Linked DNA regions of Homo sapiens: regions 2 and 3 are each linked to region 1. The links come from fine-mapping of genetic effects on gene expression. A gene starts in region 1. Each other region holds a variant in brackets. All regions are shown on one strand. Distances are between the middles of the regions. Region 1 holds the start of RIC3 (RIC3 acetylcholine receptor chaperone). Region 2 overlaps RIC3 (RIC3 acetylcholine receptor chaperone). Region 3 has its middle 46 kb from the start of RIC3-DT.

The links. PIP is the estimated chance that this variant, and not a neighbour inherited with it, causes the effect.
Region 2: its variant is the best candidate, but not a certain one, in a credible set for the expression of RIC3 in testis (GTEx, PIP 0.65).
Region 3: its variant is the best candidate, but not a certain one, in a credible set for the expression of RIC3 in whole blood (TOPMed, PIP 0.76).

The regions. Positions count from the first base shown.
Region 1 is chr11:8,165,578-8,172,560 of GRCh38, forward strand. RIC3 (RIC3 acetylcholine receptor chaperone) reads right to left here and starts at 3,448. Exons shown (of 6, transcript NM_001206671.4): 1 at 3,289-3,448. The coding sequence starts at 3,412. It overlaps RIC3-DT (RIC3 divergent transcript), which reads left to right and starts at 3,493. Exons shown (of 5, transcript NR_187234.1): 1 at 3,493-3,612; 2 at 4,308-4,411.
Region 2 is chr11:8,106,222-8,113,204 of GRCh38, forward strand. RIC3 (RIC3 acetylcholine receptor chaperone) reads right to left here. Exons shown (of 6, transcript NM_001206671.4): 6 at 1-4,916. The coding sequence ends at 4,477. TUB (TUB bipartite transcription factor) reads left to right here. Exons shown (of 12, transcript NM_177972.3): 12 at 1-22. Among named protein-coding and RNA genes, the nearest start is that of TUB, 29 kb to the left of the region's middle. The variant T/A (reference allele first, on the strand shown) is at 3,963.
Region 3 is chr11:8,211,823-8,218,805 of GRCh38, forward strand. No RefSeq gene overlaps it. Among named protein-coding and RNA genes, the nearest start is that of RIC3-DT, 46 kb to the left of the region's middle. The variant C/T (reference allele first, on the strand shown) is at 4,406.

The sequences.
Region 1 (6,983 bases):
GGGGGCTGAAGAAATATTCTAAAATTGGTTGTAGTGATGGTTGTACAACTCTGAATATGCTGAAACCCAATAAATTGTACACTTTAAGTGGGTGAATTGTATGATATATAAATTAGATCTCAAGAAAGCTGTTATCAAAAAAAAAAAAGACTTCCCTCCTCTATGTTCTATGAAACCTGTTTTTTGGGGTTTTTTTTTTGTTTTGTTTTGTTTTTTTTTTTGGCAGAGTCTCACTGTGTTGCCCAGGCTGCAGTGCAGTTACACAATCACACCTCACTGTAGCCTTGACCTCCAAACTTCAAACGATCCTCCCACCTCAGCCTACAGAGTAGCTGGGGCTACAGGTGCACACCACCATGCCCAGCTAATTGAAAAAAAACAAACTTATTTTGTAGAGATGGGGGTCTTGTTATGTGGCCCAAGCTGGTCTCGAACTCCCAGGCTCAAGCAATCCTTCCACCACAGCCTTTCAAAATGCTGGGATTACAGGCATGAGCTGTCACACCTGGTTTATGAAACCCTTCTTAAGTCCCAATAACACTGACCATTGCATACATGTCTCCATTGTTCCCTGCGCAGACTTGAGTAACTGTGACTGACACTCTTGCATTTATCTGCTAACATGTCTGTTTTGCATTTATCTGTTGACATGTCTACTTTCCTTTACTAAACTGTGGCCGCCTCAAAGCATGGAGTTCGCTCATTTTTTCTTGGAATACATAGTGTCTATACACTATGTGCACAGTATGTGATATGGTACATCATAAATATTTGTTAAAAGACTATCTTAAAGGCTTTCATGTGGAAAGGGAACTGTGCTTGTTTCATGCACATCAATGGGCAAAAATGGAAGACATAACAACATGTATTTTTAAGAATTTTCAAATACTCAGGGTTATTCCTTTCTTCAAAGCAGGGATTTCTGGGTTCTGAGAATTCTCTGAATTGATACTGAAATTCTGAGTACAATAAGAGTATGTACCTTTTTCTAGAGAGAACATACAGTTTTAGGCTGAGTGCAGTTGCTCAAGCCTGTAATCCCAGCACTTTGGAAGGCTGAGGCAGAAGGATCACTTGAACCCACGAGTTCGACACCAGCCTGGACAATACAATGAGACCCCCATCTCAACCAAAAACAAAAAAAATTTTTTTTAATTAGCCAGGCATGGTGGCATGTGCCTGTAGTCCCAGTTACTTGGGAGGCTGAGGTGGGAGGATCAGTTGAGCCCTAGAAGTAGAGGCTGCAGTGAGCTGTGATCATGACTCTGCACTCCAGCCTGGGTGACAGAGTGAGACCCAGGGAAAGGGAAAGAGAAAGGGAAAGGGGGCCAGGAAGAGAGGAAAGGAGGGAGGGAGGGACAGAGGGAGGAAGGAGAGAGAAAGAAAGAAAATACATAGCTTTTATAAGATTCTCAATGGTGTATGTAACCCCAAAATGGTTAAGATTTTTTGCTGCAAGTTTCAGTTACTGGAATGTACCATTCAAGGTAAGTTTTTTCCTAGGTTATACTACTTCAGTAGCTTCTCCTTGTCAAAAACAGAATTTACAGTATTGGTAGCTTAATAATCTTAAAGTATTTATTGACTGCCCATTATATGCCAGGTACTGAAGAAACAGTGGTAAACAAGACAAAGTCCCTACCCTTGCAAACTTACATTCTAGAAGGTGAAGACAAAAAAACAAACAAGTAAACACTTAAGAATATTCCATATCATATAGTGATGCCTATCATGAAGAATATAAAACATGATAAAATAGAGAATGATGGGAGAAAAGAGTTATTTTAGTTAGTGTCATCAGGGGAAGTCTCTCTGAGGAGGTTTCATTTGAGCAGAAATTTGAATGATGAGAAGGGCACTGAGGGAAAAGCACAGCACTTCAGGAATAAAGAGAACTGAAGGTACAAAGATCCTAACATGAGAACACTGAATACCAACACTTGAGTTCTCAAGGGAACAACCCATGTCTAATCTCCACTCTACATTTTCTACAACGTTCAGAAGAGTGTCTCCCACTCACAGTCAATAGTACTTGTTCAAGATAATTCACCATAATGGAAAGTAAAAAAAAAAAAAAAAAAGTTTTCGAAGAATCTTCACTGTTCAGGATCATCATGAATTGACTCTTCTTCAAAGTAGACAATATCATTAGACAAAGCAGGTAAAAATCTTTGGGATTATTGCAATAAGACAGAAAGGAAAAAAAAAGAACAAATACGCAAAGATGTTTTAGAAGTCCGTCCCAAGTGGATAGTCTTACAAGCATAAAGATTATCAGGCAAATTCTGTAAACAGAATTATGTGTTCAACCTGCCCTCCACCCCTAAAGCTTGGTGCTTTGCATTTATAGTGTGTATGATGCTCAAGAGAATGGAACTACAGTCAATGTGCATAAAGCAGACGGAAGTGGATTACAGTTCAAAAGGAGCTGTCCAGCAATCAACAGTTTAAACATTACTGGAAGTGTTCAGACACCGTAAAATCATGTCTCAAAGATATTACAAGGATAATTTACAGGAGAAAGTTACCAGTAGAACTTCATGACCTATAGAAAACTGTTCTGGTTCCTTCTCCCAGCCTTCAGCACCGTGCCTTTACACTCATTCTGTAAAAGGCCCCAGTGCAGCTAAGAGGATGAATTTTTAAACACCACATACATCATGCCAACAACGAAGAATTAACAGATAAATACTGTTTCAATAAGGGGAACGTAATAATTTGTTCATAACCACCTCAGTAACTGAAACTGGGGTTATTAAAATCTTCAAGATATATTTTTAAAGGCACAAGAAGAGCCTGAAGCAGTGAGCGCCCAGCACCAAGTTGAAAAAACATAACGACTTAAGGTTTGCTGTACCAATTCCATTTGCCTTGATTTCGTACCAAGCGGCGCGTCAGAAAGTACACGGAAAACCTAAAGAGGGAAACCCAACTGGGAACCCTTGACTCAAAGCACGTGAACAAATGGTGACGAGATGAGTTAAGCCAGCGGGGTAAGAGAGAAGGGACTGCGCCTAAACGGGAGTACGCAAGGCCACCTAGAGGATGCACAGACCTGCATGCATACGTTCCTGACCCTTCCAGCAGCAGAACCATCTGGGCCGCCACCCGCTGATAACAACGGAACCGTGGGCATTGGCCCTTCAACGCCGTCTCGCCCGCCCTCTCCAGTCAGTTTGGTGGATATTTCGGTGAAGGCTGCAGACTCTCAGAGTCACCCCTCCCTCAAGCAGCGTTCTCCGTACTCTTCGGCGCCGGGAAGCTCAGAGGGAGCTGGCCTGCTCTTACCTTCAGGTGTCGGCGGCGGCTCCTGCCGCTTCCCGCGGGACAGGAAGGCCTTGGGCAGCAGCAGCGACAGAGCCAGGACAAGCCCAGAAGCCAGAGCGACTCTCTGCACTGTGGAGTACGCCATGACTGCTCACGGTGGTCGCAGGTGCAGACGCCAGCCGGAACCGGAACCGGAACCGGAGCACGGGCTGCCGCTCCCGACCGAACCGCGGGCGGCGCGGACGGCGTCGCGCGAGGGACAAGGTGCGCGAGGCGCACGCATCTTCACCTCCACTGTCGGGAGTTGACCTGCTCCTCCCGCGTGGTTACCCGTCGCTGTAAATGGTACCCTCGCCTTCCCGTTCATACTAACTAAAAACTCCTCCCTCACTCCCCATGTTCATCTTTTACTGAGTCCTGTGCATTCTACCGCCTACACATCCGGCGGTCGTGCCCGGATCTCTATCCCCACTTACCACCACTGCCCCCCACCCACCCGTAGATCACAACATCCAGTTTCTCCTCATCTCCATGATCTCGCTGTCTTCCAGCTTCCACTCATGCCCCTCGCATTCATTATCCGTCTGCAGCCACAGGTGATAATGCTAAAACACAAGACTAATTCTCTTTCTCTCCAGCTTAAACCTTTTAACTCTCCATTATCTTCAGAACAATAGTTAAACTCCTTTCTATAACCTCAACGCCCTGCATGATCTGGTCTTACCAATGCTCCTTCCAAACTGGATGATTTGCTATTTCTTTAGCATATTGCTTGTCTTCAGGGAAGCTTTGCTTGTCCTGTTCCCACTGCCTGGAAAATTCCTGACACCATCTCCAGTTGTCAAAAACTTCTCTGAAGAACAGCTTAAAAACACTGCTCTCTCGAAACGTTTTCAGTCAGCCTCTCCTTTCTCTACAATCCCACCGTTCTTTGTTACTCTCTTCATTCGTTCATTTAACATTATTTTAGTTTTTACTATGTATTAGACCCTCAACTTGGCACTACAGGGTCTGATGAATAAAATGGATTCCCTTTGTAGGACAGATAATTATCCAAACAAAAAAAATGCAGGAAATATTCTGGATCCCCGAGCAGTCTTCTCAACTGGTACGAGGAAAAGTCAAGAAAAGCCCCTTTGAGAAGGTGAAATTGAGTTAGCTGTTGAAAAATGAGTAACTTATAGGCAGACAGGTGGGAGGGGTTAGAAAGGTATTCCGGAAAAAGGAGGCCAAAAAAATAAAGGCAAATCTGGAAGCTTCCTGGTGTGTTCAGAAAGCTATTGGTAATTCATTTTGGCAGGGCCATAGAGTAGTGACAGGACACGAAGTGCACAAATATAAGCAGGAGCTACATTGTGAAAAGCTTAGGTAGAACTTCCAGTTAAACATGACAGATGTAACATATGCATTTATCTTTGCTTTCCTGGGACAGTGCCCAAAAAGGAAAATAAAGAAATAAAGTATATAAACTACAAGACTAAATGCAATGATAGAAAACATGACAGCAGATGAGAAATGTCAATTTTGTAAGACGCACACAACACTGTCCAATAGACACATAATACCAGCCACATATGTAATTTAAATTTTTCCAGTAGCCACATTTAAAAAGTAAAAATAAGTAAAATTTATTTTAATAATATTTTAAACCAAGATAGCAAAAATATTTCAAATTTTATCAGCACGATAGTGTGGCTCGTTGGCGCCCACAGTAGACAGTGCAGGTGTAGAGCATAAAAAGTTAAATGCCTGTGGACTGAAAGCCTGTAAGGAGTGAACTAATTTGCCCCTCAGAACCCATGCTCTTAAGAATTGGAGGTACTGGGTTCCTTTAAAGCCAAGGGTGCAGAGTGGGTCTGAATGAAGGATTGGCTGGAAATCTGATTAAAAAGCAGTTGAGACTGGGCACAGTGGCTCACACCTATAATCCCAGGGCTTTGGGAGGCCAAGGCTGGAGGATGGCTTGAGGCCAAGAGTTCAAGGCCAGCCTGGGCAACATAGGGAGAGCCCTAATCTCTACCAAAAAAATGTAAAAAATTAACCAGGCATGGTGGTGTGCACCTGTAGTCCCAACTACTCAGGAAGCTGAGGTGGGAAGATCACTTGAGCCCAAGAGTTTGAGGCTGCAGTGAGCTATGATTGTGTGAAACCACAATTAATTATGATATATAAGATGATAATAATGCCTGAATGAAGCCAGTAGGGGCACCCACTCCAGCCAGGGTGACAGAGTGAGACCCTGTCTCTAAAAAAAAATTGTTTGATTTTTTTAAAGCAATGGATATCTTCTGAATCTCTTTCCTTGATTCATGCAGCCAGATGGGTGCCACTGCTGGCTTCACTCGGGCATTATTATCATTGATGTTATTAACATCACTAAAAGTTAGAGTACTAATTATGTTTTAGGCATCTTACATATCATAATTATTCCTCCCAATAACTTCAAGAGGTAAGCAATATTATTATATACCCATTTCACAGGTAAGAAAATGGAGCCCCAGAAAACATAATTTACTTGCCAACAATTACACAGTATAAACTGGATGCTATGATTTGAACACAGGCATGCTTACTCAAGAATTTGCCCTCTTAGCTACCAGGTTTACTGTCTGGGGAGGTTTAGTCAGAAAACCTCTGGACTCCTGGACTATAGATGCAGCTTAGGGAGGAGGTGACTAATGGGATGTGGTCTCTAAGAAATACAGAGGGGTCTGGAATGACCACACTCCCCCCCGCCCTCCGCCACCAAATTCTAGCTTGGGTAAATGGTAGACATTAATTCTATATAACATGATTTTAAGAATAGAAGAATCAGGTTTGTGAGAAAGATGAAGAGTTCAGATTTTGACTAGCTGAATTTGAAGTTCCATGAAATATCCAAGTAGAAATATCCAGTTGGATATATGGGCCTGGAGCTCAGAAGAGATGTTTGGGCTAGAAACAATAGGAAATCATCAGCCCATCTATAGTAAATGAAGTCTAGGAGAAGATGGCATTAGTGAGAGTGCTCATGTGAAGTTGTAAGAAGCCACAATGGAAACCTAGGTCACAACATTATGTTGAAGTTCCCATGTATGAGGACAGAAATGAGGTGGGAAATAGTGATCCAAGTGTTAAAATCTTTAATGAATGTGGAGTTACTACAAGGTTGGAAGGTGACAGGAACAGAAGAAGTAATGGGCAGCCAGATGACATGCTCTTCTAAGGAGCTGTGTTTTTTTTTAATTGTTTAAAAATTTTTATTTATTTATTTATTTATTTATTTATTTTTGAGATGGAGTCTTGCTCTGTTGCCCAGGCTGGAGTGCAGTGGTGCAATCTCGGCTCACTACAAGCTCCGCCTCCTGGCTTCACGCCATTCTCCTGCCTCAGCCTCCCAAGTAGCAGGGACCACAGGTGCCCGCCACCACGCCCGGCTAATTTTTTTGTTGTATTTTTAGTAGAGATGGGGTTTCACTATGTTAGCCAGGATGGTCTCGATCCTTGTTATGCACCCACCTCAGCCTCCCAAAGTGCTGGGATTACAGGCATGAGCCACAGCGCCTGGCCAGGAGCTATGGTTTTTAAAGGAAGAAGAGGAAGAAGCAATTTGGAAGCAGCAAGGGGAAACAAGTTGGGCATCTATTCTATTCCCAGGCTTTAAGCTGTGGGAAGAAAAATAGCTCTTACTTTGGGAGATCTGCAAGGGAAACAGAACCCAGAGGCAACAGCCTAGT
Region 2 (6,983 bases), 59 kb before region 1:
TTAAACTTGAATCGTTTCAACACTTCTGTGTACTTTTTTCATAAAGGGGAAAAAAGCCCTGTTTACTTCCTAATTTTTTTCTATACCTTTCATTCATTGTTTCCTAGGAGCCTCAGGTGGGTAAGTAGGTGATAATAGCAAAGAGATCATAACCTCACCAATGACATGTGGGTCAACACTGTCCTTCCTCTGGCCTGTGCCTTTCAAGTTTAAGGTTCATCAGAACCACACCCAGAGGCTGGAAAAATGGTGAAGTCAGAAGGTACTTAAGTTAGAGCAGTTCTCTTCAGGGTCTGCTGTGCCGCCTGAAGGGGCTGGTGGTTCCTCAGTATCCCCTGTGGGCCTGGCCTTAGGAAGAGAACAGGGCTGTAGAGATGAAAAAGGTATAAAAGACCCAACCACTTGATGTCTCAGGGCTTGCTTGGACCCTAACCCATTTAAACAGGACCTCGAGATGCTTAGGAATCTTTTTTTGTTGCCGGGCAGCTGTGGCAGATTTGAAGGCAAAAGGAAGGGAGGCTACAGTTGTAGCTAGAAGCAGACATGAAAGCTAATGGTCTGACCCAGACAAGAGGTTATAACTAAAGGCACCCGGAGACTGCAGAAGGGCCCTGGGCCACTCCTGGCAATCAGGGTAGCCTTAGAGGGTGTCAGGTGTGACATCTCAGCAACACTGGACTTGACAGAGTGGTGACAGGGATCATGCTGTCACCAAGCACCTACCACATGCTTTGCCCTGGCACAGACACTTTATAAACAGCATCTTATTTAATCCAAACAGCCCTGTAAATAGAGCATTATTCCCAATTCATGGGGAAACTGGTTCTCTGAGAGGTTAAGGAATGACCTAAGAGGAGAAATTTGGGCTATTTTCTTTGTATAAAAAAAGGGAAATAAAGGAAAAGGAAGCACATTTTAGAAAAGTCAATGGTCAAGGCAAAGTCATAAATGTGTTCATGTTTTTTCTCAATATTGCTGAATAGCTAAAGCACTAAATTTTTCTTTGGAATACAAATAGTCCAGATTGAAGAGAACTTTGAGAGTGTGGTAATAATTCGGGTTTGTTTATTCCCCCAGATCTAGAGTTCTGATGTGACCAAGAGCATTTCCTACCTGAACCATGGCCTATCTCCTGTGGCCTCTGCCTCTGGTGGGAAATAGCGCATACAGGATATTCTAAAAAGGAAAGAGGGTTTTGTTTGTTTAGTCATCAGGTTCAAAAATCTTAAATGGCTATAGACAGGGGTGACCCTACGTCCAGGACAGTCTTAGTTTATGCCTATCACCTTGGCATAATTATATTAAAGCTCCCTTTTTCCAAAGTGTTTGAATTTGGACCTTAAGTTATTTGATCACCCAAGCCATATAAGGTGCATTGTATGGTTCTCAAAGGCCGTTGATTCTACAGGCCAAATACACCTCCACTCCTCATCACGACTCCCTGGGCCCAGCTTCTGGAGCTAGTCATGGAGATAATGGTTTCTTTGTGCTCCTGTTGTGACCAGGAAAGGGGATCTCCTGGCTGCACCACCCACCTGATTTACCAAGAGTGATCCCAGATTATGCAGTTGTTTTGTGAGCTAACTGTCCATAAAGGTATGACTTGTGTACTCTGCCACAGTGCCAAAAGGCCAGGGGACTGATCAAGTTCCCAGCACCCTCGTGAGAAATGAAGACCGCAAGAAAAGAGACAGCAGCCCTGGCAACAAAAACCGGACCCATGATTTTGTCATCCTGGGTTGTATATACACATATAACTGTCATCCCCGAAGGATAAAATAATTCTGGAAAATCCAAAAAGAATTTTCTAAATCCTAAATAACTGAAAGGTACATCCAAATGTCTGATATATAAATACACAAATATATTCCTTATATATAAACCAACCAAGAGCTAGGGCAGGAAGAACCACCATAAGGGCTTAGTACTTCTGGCAGGAATTTCCATAAGCCAATTTTCCCCAAAGACCAACAACACTTTACATAACAGCCTCACCAAAATACTTGAACATCCATGTATTTTCACACCCTACTGCTTTTTTCAACAACTCTTTCTGCCAAGAGTGTCCTCTCTTCTTTGCCTACCTGAAGAAGTTCTTTGCATGCCTCAAGGCCCACCTCCCAAGAAACTGTGAAGTTTCTTGGCAATACTTTAGCAAAAACAATTTATCTTTCCTGTAGTTTTGGGCCCATGTCTGAATTACAGCATAGCCCTTATAATAAAAACATAATTACCACTTAATGAGTGGTTATCATGTATGAGCTAGAACCAATGCTGTTTTACACACACTGATGATTTCATTTAACCAGGACCTTTAATACCCCTCCCTTTACTACCCTGAAGCCAAAGCTCAGACCAGTTAAGGAGCTGACCCAAGATTCCACAGCTAGAAAATGCAGGGACAGATTATGGCTCATGTTTCTCTGCCTGCAGGATTCACGATCCTGAGCCCTCTTACAGGGTCATAGTTCATTTTATCTGTCAGGCTCTCTCTCGTCACACTGAGTTTTCTGAGGGTAGAGATTGAGCCTCTGTTCCTAGCACCTGGCACTGAGCAATTGACTGCTAAATGAATGAATGAGCTAGAAGAGAACAGCAGTATTTATCTCTAATAAGGGAATCCTATCCTAAGGCCAAAAGTAAACCTGAGCCAGGAACCCAGGGCTCTCCTCATGAATCAACCCCTCACAGTGAACGAAGGGAAATAACACAGAAAACAATTTATCTAAACAGTAAAGAGCACCTGTTATTTTTCACCTTTCGTGTACAATACATCTAGATTGCATTCAGTATATTTTAAACTGCATTCTTCACAATGTGAATCAAATGTTCTACACAGAGATAGATGCAATATGCTTTCTATAAACTCAGTCTTGAATGACTTTCTGTAACTCAATTAACAATAAATGCCTAGTAGTAGCTGACAGATTATCTTAATATGATCCCATACCTTCTAACAGCAGTCTGTATGCTGATGTATAATTTTAAACTGTTTTCCTGGCACCTTATTCATGCCAAGCATAATGTAACTCTAAAAGCCATATCTACCTTTACATAATGTCTTAATTTTCCAGTCTTCTACATTTCATGACTGGGAATGTCTTTGGGAATGTGCCCTCTTCGAACTCTCAGGTCTTACATGTAAACTGAATTCACACATACCTCATGATGTAATTCATGGGTGCTATCTTGTCTCAAGAAGACACACGTCAGATGCAGTAAGGAGAAAAGGCCTTTAGTTTGGTCAAAATCCTCCCAGTCTTAATCTAGTTGCTGCTACTTTCCCCAGCTCTCTCAAAAAGACCCAAATATCCGAGTATGGAACACATGGTCTCTACCCCTGGGCACTGCTATATTGGTTCTCTGCAACAGACATACTCCAACTTCCCTCTTGAGTTGGCACTTTGTATACAAGATCAGTCCTCATTTGTTTCAATTTATGGTTCTGAGAAGAAATTTCTCAAAGGGTGCAACATTCAGAAACAGCTTTAGGTAAGGACTGTCCATAAGCACACAGATTCTCTCCCCTATTGCTGGCTTCCTGGCCTTCTGAGCTCCTCATGGCAGGAGCAGAATTCACAATCTTGAGCCCTCTTATAGGGTTGCAGCCTCCTCATGGCAGGACCATCCCTGGGCAGGGCTTCCTGCAGCTTCAATGGCCTCAAGTCTTGACTCTGCAGGGCAGGGTCTAAAGTCTCTATCTAAAGCTTCCTCTGTCCACTGAAAACCAGGAGTGCAAAGGTACTTCTGGGCTTGGCAGTTCTGTTAAGCAGAACAGGGGTAAAGGAAGCTAGATATCCAGGTAGTATCAGAGTAAAACAGTCCCCAAACAAGCCTCTGGGCTCATTCTCAGATCAGTGGGAGTCTTCCCTACTCTGGAGAAAAGAGGATGTCTGAGGCAGCATCAATGTTCCTAGGAAGACCCTCGCTGCGAGGAAGAGGCTTCAGCTTAGACAGCAGAG[T/A]CTTACCCTCCTCTGGGCCCATTAGCCCCACAAACAAAATGTTCTCTTCTCACCAGGGGACTACTAACCTGCTCAAGGCCCAAAGAATAAGGGATCTTGGAGTCTGAAATCTTCATTCTTGCAACCTTAAGTCCTCATCATCTGTAAGCTGATGTTCGTTCACAGGTGAACTATCTGTTACACCTACCAGGAAGAGTCAGACCTTTGCCCCTGAGTGGTCCCATCTGTAATTACAATAGACCAAACATAATTACTTAATGGATCAACTTCTCTGATAGAGGAAAGGCAGGAAGAGAAAGAGCGAAGCTGTCCTGTGTTCACACTAATGTCCGTGTTTTACAAGGTGACAGGTGTGTGAGCACCAGGAAGGATACATGATATCCATGATAGTGGCCTGATAGCTATGACACTTGAACACAGTGAAGAAAGTGCAGGGCACAGGGCCAAGAAGGAAATCTGAGGAGAGAGAGGTCACCTTGGGACTTGAGTAATGGATACTTCAGACTGGCTGTTTTCACTCTAAACCCTGGGGGTTACGCTTCCTCAGCATGCTGCCTGTATATGCTTTATCGGTGCTGATGCCCAACCCTTCATCTTTAAAGTCTTGGGACCACTCTTCTTTGGTGGTTTCCTCTTGCTCAGGGTAGCTATCTGCACTGAATCCAGCATTCTCTGCCAAGACAGCAGGATCCTCGTCTTCATGAAAACAGCAGGAACATGTTTCTGGCTTTGGATCACACGAGGTAACAGAATTATCTTCCTGGGCTCTGGGGTCAGTGGGCAGACTTTCCCAACCCAAATGATCTGATTCTTCCTCTTCTATCATTCCCATTCTTTCAGCTATTTCTTCAGCAGAAAGTTCTTTTGGGTCAGGGTAATCCACCAAGATTGTTTCTTGCCTACGCTTGATACAGTCTGAAAGGTCATAAATTGGGTAAGTCTCTTCAGGGTAACCTAGAGAGAAAAGTAGCACAAAGTATTACAAAGAATGTCTCCTCAAAAAAAAAAAAAATAGTGTCAGGTTCAAAGAGGATTCTCAGGCAGCAGCCATCCTATCCTAACAAATCCATTCAAGACATCTCTAAGATTCCAATAGTTCTAAAGTTTTACTTGAGCAAATTCTTAGCAATCTGGCTATCCCAGTGCTCTTTGAAATACAAACTAATTCAGATGAAAATCCCTTCTTATGTGTAGGGTGCTTGGGGCAGAGTTAAGTCTTATACCATGTGTTTTTGCAGTACTGATGAAGATTAAACAAACAACATGAGCCTTTAGTTAAAACAAAAAAAGCATCAAAACCAGACAGAGACAGCACAGCTCCAGGCTAATGTTTATAATTTCTATTTGGAACAATTTCCAAATCTTCCTTGGTGGAGTGGGGAGAGGAAAGGAATGCTAAGCTCTTTGAAAAATACACCATGAAGCTTTCTATTTATCCAAACAATTGAAATGGCTTGCAAGTGTCAAAAATAGAGAGCACTTTAGCAAGGCATGCCCAAGATCCCGAAAGGACAAGCACTGCATTTTCGGAAGACAGAATTCCTGTTGTTGGCTTCTTCATCTTCACAAAATGGAACAAAAGAAAACAACAAACTGGCAAACAAAATGAGTAACACTGGTACTGAATCCCAGCTAGGATAATGAGAAAAGAGAAACTGTTGCCAAATTACCAAACTAAATGAAATAAATCTGTGTCCGCCAAGCAAGCCTGAGCAGCAGATGGGCCGTGCTGGAGCTCACACACCAGTACTGGCACCAGCGGCCGTAATCACGATACAGTGCAGAAAGCTGGAGGATTCAGAACCCATTTGCCCATTATGATAATTGGCAAATTCAACCCTAACGTAAACCATTTTTTGCCTACAACTGTGACAAATAAGTCTTTTTTGGTGCAATGTAGGGTGTGTGTGGAGACATTTCTACATTTACTGCTTTTTCTGACTATAAAAATCATACAGACTCATTTGTAGAAAATTTGAAAAAAATACAGGCTAGTTTAAAAAAGAAAACACAAATCACCCATAATATCTTCACTCATAATAATTTGCTTTTTTCTGGTCTTTTTTTAACCGTATATACACATATATTTTCTTTTCTTTTCTTTTCTTTTCTTTTTTTTTTTTTGAGACGGAGTCTCGCTCTGTCGCCTGCCCAGGCTGGAGTGCAGTGGTGCAATCTCGGTTCACTGCAACCTCTGCCTCCCCGATTCAAGTGATTCTCCTGCCTCAGCCTCCTGAGTAGCTGGGATTACAGGTGCATGCCACCACACCTAGCTAATTTTTTGTATTTTTAGCAGAGACGGGGTTTCACTATGTTGGCCAGGCTGGTCTCAAACTCCTGACCTCAGGTGATCCACCCACCTCGGTCTTCCAAATTGTTGGGATTACAGGCATGAGCCACCGCGCCCGGCCAACATGTATTTTCTTATTCCCCTTTTTTAAAAAGAAGGATCATATTTGTGTATAAAAGGTTATATCCTGATGTTTTTCAATTCAACATTATATCATGAGCATCTCTCCATGTCATTAGGCATTTGAAAGTTGGTTGCAAAATATCTCATCATATAGCTACATAACTGACATGATTTACTAGTCCTCTTTTCTAGGGCATTTAGATTCTTTCCAATTTTCCCCTATTATAAGTAGTATACAAGTTAAGATTTCTTAATATAAATCTATGTCCACTTCCCTAGTTCTTTAAGATAGACTTCTATAAATATGAAAACTAGACCAAAGGGAATGGACATTATAAAAGCCTTTTTTATACTGTGCCAAATTACTTTCCAGAAGAGTGGTATAAATTTTCAATCCTACCAGTGATATAAAGACTGTCCATCTTATGACACCCTCACCAGCACTCACAGTAGTATGTTAAGAATTTTGCCAATGCAGTCTTTATTCCAAGGCTTAACTTACTGCGGATGGAATGCTAGGTAAAGTGGAGCTTAGCTAACCCAAGACCCTCAGCCACCATGGTCAAGGATAGGATCTGGAGAAGCTGCTTGCTAGTCAGCTCCCAGCC
Region 3 (6,983 bases), 46 kb after region 1:
AGTGCATGATCTGCTAATATTCTCTTGAGAGGAAAACCAGAATATTGGCTATTAAACTCTCAAAGGCAGGGCCAGGGCCCCATCAGAAGTTGAAGGAAAAGGTCCTGCCCCTTTCTCTGAGTGCCACCATACCTATTTTCCCCAGGTCTAATATATGCTCAACTCCAGTGGATGGAGGCATAAGCATTTCTAATGAAGGCTTCAACTAGGCACCCATAAAATCCATACAGGAAGTTGGAAAGACCAGGGCGTGAGTTTATACAGCCAAAGTTTCCTCGTACCGCAACAAGGCATACACAACTTTACCTTTAGAGTCCTTTGTAGGGTGTATTAATAAAGAAGCTCTGAGCTGCAAGTAACAGAAACCCCAGATTCAAGGGGACTTAAACAATGCAGTCATCTGGAGGTAGGGTGGGCCCCAAGTGTATACCACCAGCAGTTTAATGAAGCCATTGAGGACATAGATTTTTCCATTCCTCCATTCCGCCTTCCTTGGTGCCATCTTCGTCTTAAGACTGGTCTCCTTTATGGTCATGATGGCTAGCAGTGACAAAAAGAACCACCTCTTTCCTTATTCACATATAGAAAGATAGGAAACCTCTCATCCTGTCATGGGATATTAGTCCTTAGTCTGATAAGAACAATTTGGATACCTACACACCCTAGACCATTAATAGGGTCCAGGTACACTTCTTTGTTTTGGACTAATCATCTGTGGACTGGAGCTTCAAAGTCCCCTAAATGTCCACTACAGAGGGTGTCTCAGGTAGATGCTGTCTTGTTCCTGTGAGTGAGGAAGGCGCTCATGCTTTGGCTCTAGTTCAACCTCTAAACCAGACGTGGATGCATTGCTTCCTCCTAGATTTACCTAACAGAAATTCACAAAATTCACAAAATTCAAAGCTAATTATTACCAGAGGAATACATATTCCTCCTGGTTACCTGATTTTAATTTCTCTCCAATAATTATTACCTGGAATTATTATGCCAAAGTAAGTGTTTACCTCATTTCTCAACCTGTTTTTATTGTAGAGGGACCTTCCACTAACAGAAAATGCCCCATATGAGCCATTTGGGATATTGGCATCATTCTCAATTCCTTTCTCAATGAGCCCCAAATACCCTGGTGGTGGGGGGCTGAGGAGGTAACCACAGTTCACTTCATTTCATCAGAAATTATTTGCCCAGTGTGAACACCTTTTCTTTGGCCATTTTATTCTCTGTGCTTGAAGATGCCTTGGGAGCAGAGAGTGGATAAAACTCAAAGCAGGCCTAGGACGCAATGACTGGATGGAAGAACTTGCCTTCTCTATCCCCAAGAGGGTTCTAGTACTTACTGAATGGAGAGAAAAACAAAAAAGTCTGGCAAAGGCTCATGAAGAGCAAGTCATGAAAAACTCATTCCTCATCTGTACAATAGAAGAAGCTGCAGGTGTCCTCACCCCTGCTGTCTGCCCTGTCCCCATTCCTGGTGTCTACTGCCAGACTGGAGTGCGGTGGTGTAATCATGGCTCACTGCAGTCTTGACCTCCTGGGCTCAAGTGATCCTCCTACCTTAGCCTCCCAACTAGCTAGGTGCACACCATCATGCCCGGCTAATTTTTAAAATTATTTTTGTAGAGACAGACTCCTGCTATGTTGCTCAGGTTTGAACTCCTGGACTCAAGCAATCCTCCCACCATAGACTCTGAAAGTGTTGGGATTACAGGCGTAAGCCACTACTTCCTGCCATGATTCACTCTTTATGTCACTGCAGAGTGATTTCCCAAAAAGTTCAGGCCTTATTGTGCCTTTGTTCCACTTACAAAGTTTTGACATTTCCTGGTTGCCTCCAGGGTAAAGGTCTATCTCCCTGGCCTGGCACGAGAGCCCCTTCCAGCAGGCTTGCTGCTTTCCTCCAAGGCCTCTGCGTTCTGGGTTGCAGGTGCATTGAGTGCTTGGTCACCCTCCAACTAAGCCCCACTGTCTCCCACTTCTGTGCCTTTACCTGCTGCCGGGCATACTCATCCTTCCACGTTTGATAGTTCAAGTGTCCTTCCCTCTGAAACCTTCCCTTCTCCCAGGCAAAGTTAGTCACCTTCTCTTCCTTCTTTCTGAAACCTCTGTTCAGAGCTCTGACATGACGCCAATCACACTGAGTTATGACTTTTTAACAGGCTGGCTCCTGACTCCCCTCCTTTCTGTGAGATTTCTTGAGGGCAGGGGCTTTGGTTCATTTGTCTTTTCACCTTTCTTGCCTTATACTACATTACACACTCGACATACCTTGGATAGACAGAAATCTGGATGGAAGGAAGAATGGCAAGAAGGATGGATGGACGGATGCGTTGATGGATGAATTAAATCAACATCACTTTTTTTTCTGCCTAGGTCACTAGACTGCTCTCAGGGATGCTTTTCAGTGTCTGGATTCTTGGTAAGTTCCTTCATAACCTCATCCACGCTTGTGATGGAAAACTGCATCTGACGTGATATTACTCAGCTGTTTGAAGAATCACTCCCAAAAGAACACCAAATAATGGTAGTATGATAGGAAGTACTGCATGGCCAGCCACAGGGTTTTGCCCCAGGCCATATCATGCTCAATTTTTAGCCAAGAGAGTGGTCACCTCCACTTGCAATGAGCATTATTACCCCTTGGCAGAGGTGTGTTTCAAAACATCACACCATTTTGCTAGACTCTGCCACCTGCTGAACCTTTCTGGTCTATCGGGCCTCAAAGTCCTCCCCAATAAACAGTGCTCTTTAACCCTAGTTCTATTCCCTGTGCCCCAGGACACAGACCATCCAATATCTCCATCAACTTTACTCCCTTTACCCATAGACCACTTCACTACTTCCAATAAGCCCCCTCACCTCCCAGCACATCTGGCTGCCTGCTCCTCCCTGAGCCCCCCTAGCACTGCTAGGTCTTACATTTGCTTTTGTCTCAGCCTGAAGTGTCCTTTCTCTGTATCTCCATGCAGATAAATCCTAGCCCCAGCTCCAATAAGCCCGTTTTGCTCCCTGGGCCCCAGCCTGAGCCACCAAAAGCATTCTTCCTTGATACTCCTGCTTCACAGCAGGTCACTGTGCCCTTACAGAGGTAGGGCTTTGCTAAGTGAGAGCCAGTAAGGTTACCTATGGTACCCACAGGAAAATACATTTTCCAAGTGTCCATAAGATTCACAACTTAGAAAACAGCAGTGGACATGTGTGCTATGCCCGGCTCATAACGCGAGCTCTCTATTGCCTACTACATAAAGGCTTAAACTCTTCTGCTCAGCTTCCAATTCCCTGTCCCCCACTTCCATTCTAGGCACACTCCACTTCCCAGTGTCCCTTCTTCTGTTTTGACAAGTCAAGATTACAGGCTTCCCTCTGTACCTGTAAGGCCGTCCCTCATATTTCTAGCTAGTCTTTCTGTAAGAAGCAGCTCAGTACTTGCCTCTTCTCAGATATTTTCTGCCACGTGGGCCATCTCCTCTTCAGAATTCTCACAACACAATATCCATGCATCCACTCTCACCATGTATTGCTTCTATTAGTGGTCTACACTAAGGTACAGAGCAGGCACCCTGTCCCAAGAGGAAGGAGAGCTGATTCCTCTTCTGTCCTCTGCATGATCTAACTACATTACAATATATTTTATGTCCTTCCCTGTAAACTGGGACTCTTAACCTGTGTACTCCCAGGGAGACTGGGAGACAAAATATAGCAATGGGAGTTATAGGGCTTTAATAAGCAGAAACATTTCTATAATGGGTTGTTGTCTTTGGCCCCACTGGGTGGGTAAGTTCCTAGAGGGTAGAAACCTGTAACCGCTAATATAAAAACGTAGATTGCCCACTAAAAGCAAGGGGCCCTTGATATTCTGCCTCTAAGGTCTCTTCAGGCCCAAGGGCATTATTTTGCTGGACAAAGGTCTACTGGTCAGTGGTGGGGAAAGGTGGAAGTGTGCATTCTAACAGGGAATAAAGACAACCAGAAGTATAATGGGGATCTGGTCCCTACCCAGATGGGATCAGGAGCCCAGAATCTGCATCTATCTTGGGACTCTGGAACCTGTGCCCCTTCCTTTATATGAAGTCTTTATCCTGGCCTAAATGTTTCTCTGCAAAGATCAGAAAGCAAAGCTTGAAGGTGTACAAGACTAGGAGAGTGTCTGAAGGGGAGTGAAGAATATGGTGTCCCATTCTTCAAAGCACTGCTGGTGTTGAGGGTCACCAGAGACAAACTCAGTGATGGAAGGCAGAGTCTATTCCTGCTTGGCCCAGGGATCACATTGGGAAGGCCTTGGGGTCCCCAACAAAATAGATCATGCCACTTTTTTGCTCTATATTACCCCTTTGACAAAGCTTGGCTGTGAGCTAAACATTGGGGTCCATCTACTGCACACCACCAATCTACAGCCCCCTACCAAAGG[C/T]GGGGTTGGGAAGAAAGCATGCAGAAACAGTCCACACCAAATGTCCCATGGAATGGGACTCACAGTTTCCAAGAATGTGGGAGAGGGATGAACCTCAAAGATTACGTTGCACAGCCCCATGCTGCATAGAGAGAGAGCAGAGCTAAATGGAGTCCAGAGCCTAGGTTAGAGGCCCTATGCTAAAGAAAAAAGATGAGAGCATCCAACCCCCTATGGGATTTAAAATAAAAATATCTAAACTGCAAAATAAAGTTATGTTTTTGAAATGAAACAAACCTTTATATATAACATATATATGACAAACATATATATATGCTGAAATTTTTAAAGTGCTCCTTTTTTGATAGCCTGAGTTTTTAATTTGGTTTTTCCACTTTGCTTGTCCCAGGCAGGGGGCAGAGGGGAAGAAGACAATTAAGGATAATGTCAGCATCATTTTCTGGAGTCTGAGGCACCTGGGCGGAGGCCCCCTTTGAAGAGCTGAGCTGCTTCTGGAGGTAATGAGTGCTGGTTTTCCAGGGAAAGGCCACGCCGTATTTGTTGGGCGTGCTTTCCACCACCTCTTCCACTCTGTGTATCTGCTGATGAGCCCAAGGGGCTCCATCTTGGAAACTCCAGGACCACAAAGAGCTCCAATGAGTCCTGAGAGCCTGACCTGGTTCTCCTTCCTGTAGGACATGCTCACGTTTTGGACTTGGTGGGGGAAGTTTTGCAGTTTTGCAGCATGACGGCCCTAGAAGGGGTGGTGCCCACCATTCAAACCTGGTTTTGTCTTTCCCCTTCTCAACATTTCTCCATCCAACCCCCACAACCTGCACGCATCCTGCCTCCGGCTGCTTTAGGCTCAGCCTTCCAGAACTTACCGGGATGTCTTCCTGGAGGGAGAAGAGCCTCTGATGCTTCCCTTGCCTCCCTTCCCAGCCTGGGGAGGCTTCTTTGGGGAGCCACTGCTGGAGGTGGGGGTGGGTGGGAGGACAAGAGCAGGCCCCTCTCAGGTGGGAAATGTTTTGTAATTAGCCTTAATGAGGAGGGAAGGGTAGTCTATTTCATTGCAGGGAAATGGGATTTTTAAATCATTTTAAGGGCTGCCTCAGCTCTAAAATGGCCGTAGTGGGGCCTCAGAGGGGCTGGTAATTAGCTCTCTTGTCTCTAATGAAAGCAGAGGGACAGGATGAGGGGTCATCTAATAAGCACGGGGATTAGCTTCCAGATAGGCCCTAAATAAGAAGGCAGGTGCAGGGGAGGGTGAAGGAGAGGTTTGGGCCAGCAGAGCTCCCGGCTGAGGGGCAGCAGCCCACGGGAACTCAGAGAAGGGGGTGCCCACCCCAACCGTACTTTGTGCAAAGTCACCCTCACTCCTTCACTGTGAGAGAGGCTAGGAATGGATGGTGGCCTGATGTGCCTGGACCAGGAGCAAGGGGCCCTACCATCACCTTGACTGATTTCAGGAACCCATAGACCTGAAAGCCCAGGTGAAGCAGGGAGGGGAGTCTACAGGACCCAGACAAAACAACCTTTCCCTCAGGGGGTGCCTAATGGGCATGTCATTGGCAGCAGACAGGAGCCACCACACCTCGGCCTGTGATGCACAGCTAAGAGAAACCCACCTGCCTCGGCCCAGCTCTCCCTGCCTTGGCCCACCTCTCCCTGCCTCGGCCCAGCTCTCCCTGCCTCGGCACACCTCTCCCTGCCTCGGCCCACCTCTCCCTGCCTCGGCCCAGCTCTCCCTGCCTCGGCACACCTCTCCCTGCCTCGGCACACCTCTCCCTGCCTCGGCCCACCTCTGGACCCCAGGAGCCAGGAAGGTCCAACAGAGGCCCCAGAGGTGAGCCTCAGCTCAGAGCTCCTCCCCCATCAGAACTAACCAGCCGGGCTGAAAGAGGCAACGGCCGGAGAAAAGGAACAGGAGAGCTGGTCCTGCCAGTTCCTGGCGTCCTGCGGCCCTTTGGGCATTGCACATTCCTGCTTTTACAGTGAATTGTTTTTTCCCCAGAACACTACTCGTGCTGAGTCTGCAGAGAATCCTGCCTTCTTAATGCATACGCTATACAGGGCAGTCACTCCAAGTGTCTGGAACAATCCCACTGGAATCCCCAGAAGCCATGGATCTAGTCAATGTGTCCCAAGTTGGTGGCATTATGGGGCAGGCAGACTGGTGGTGGAAGCCAAGAACCCAAACCCAGTTTCTTGGCATTTTAAGGAGTAATGTTTCTTATTAAGTGGCAAACAAAGGAAGAGAAGCACTGAGCAGGTGTCAGGGCTGAGTGGAGTTTCCTTTCCTCCACCCACTGTGTGCCCCAGGAGGATCCTTGGCTGGAACGCAAGTCACAGGATGTAGGACACAGAGCCCTGGGCCAGGCTGAGGGCCAGGAACCCAGACTCCCAACCCAGGCTGGTTCCAGTGTGCCCCTGGCCATCACTTCCTCTCCGGGCCCCAGTTTCCCCATAGTGAGCCCATCGGATAAGATGGTCTCTAAGGGTGGTGGGCAAGAAACTCTCATCCCTGCCCACTCTCTCTGAGTAGACTTCCCTCCAGCTTCTCCCTGCCACCCGGCACTGTCTTTAGCCTGTTATTGAT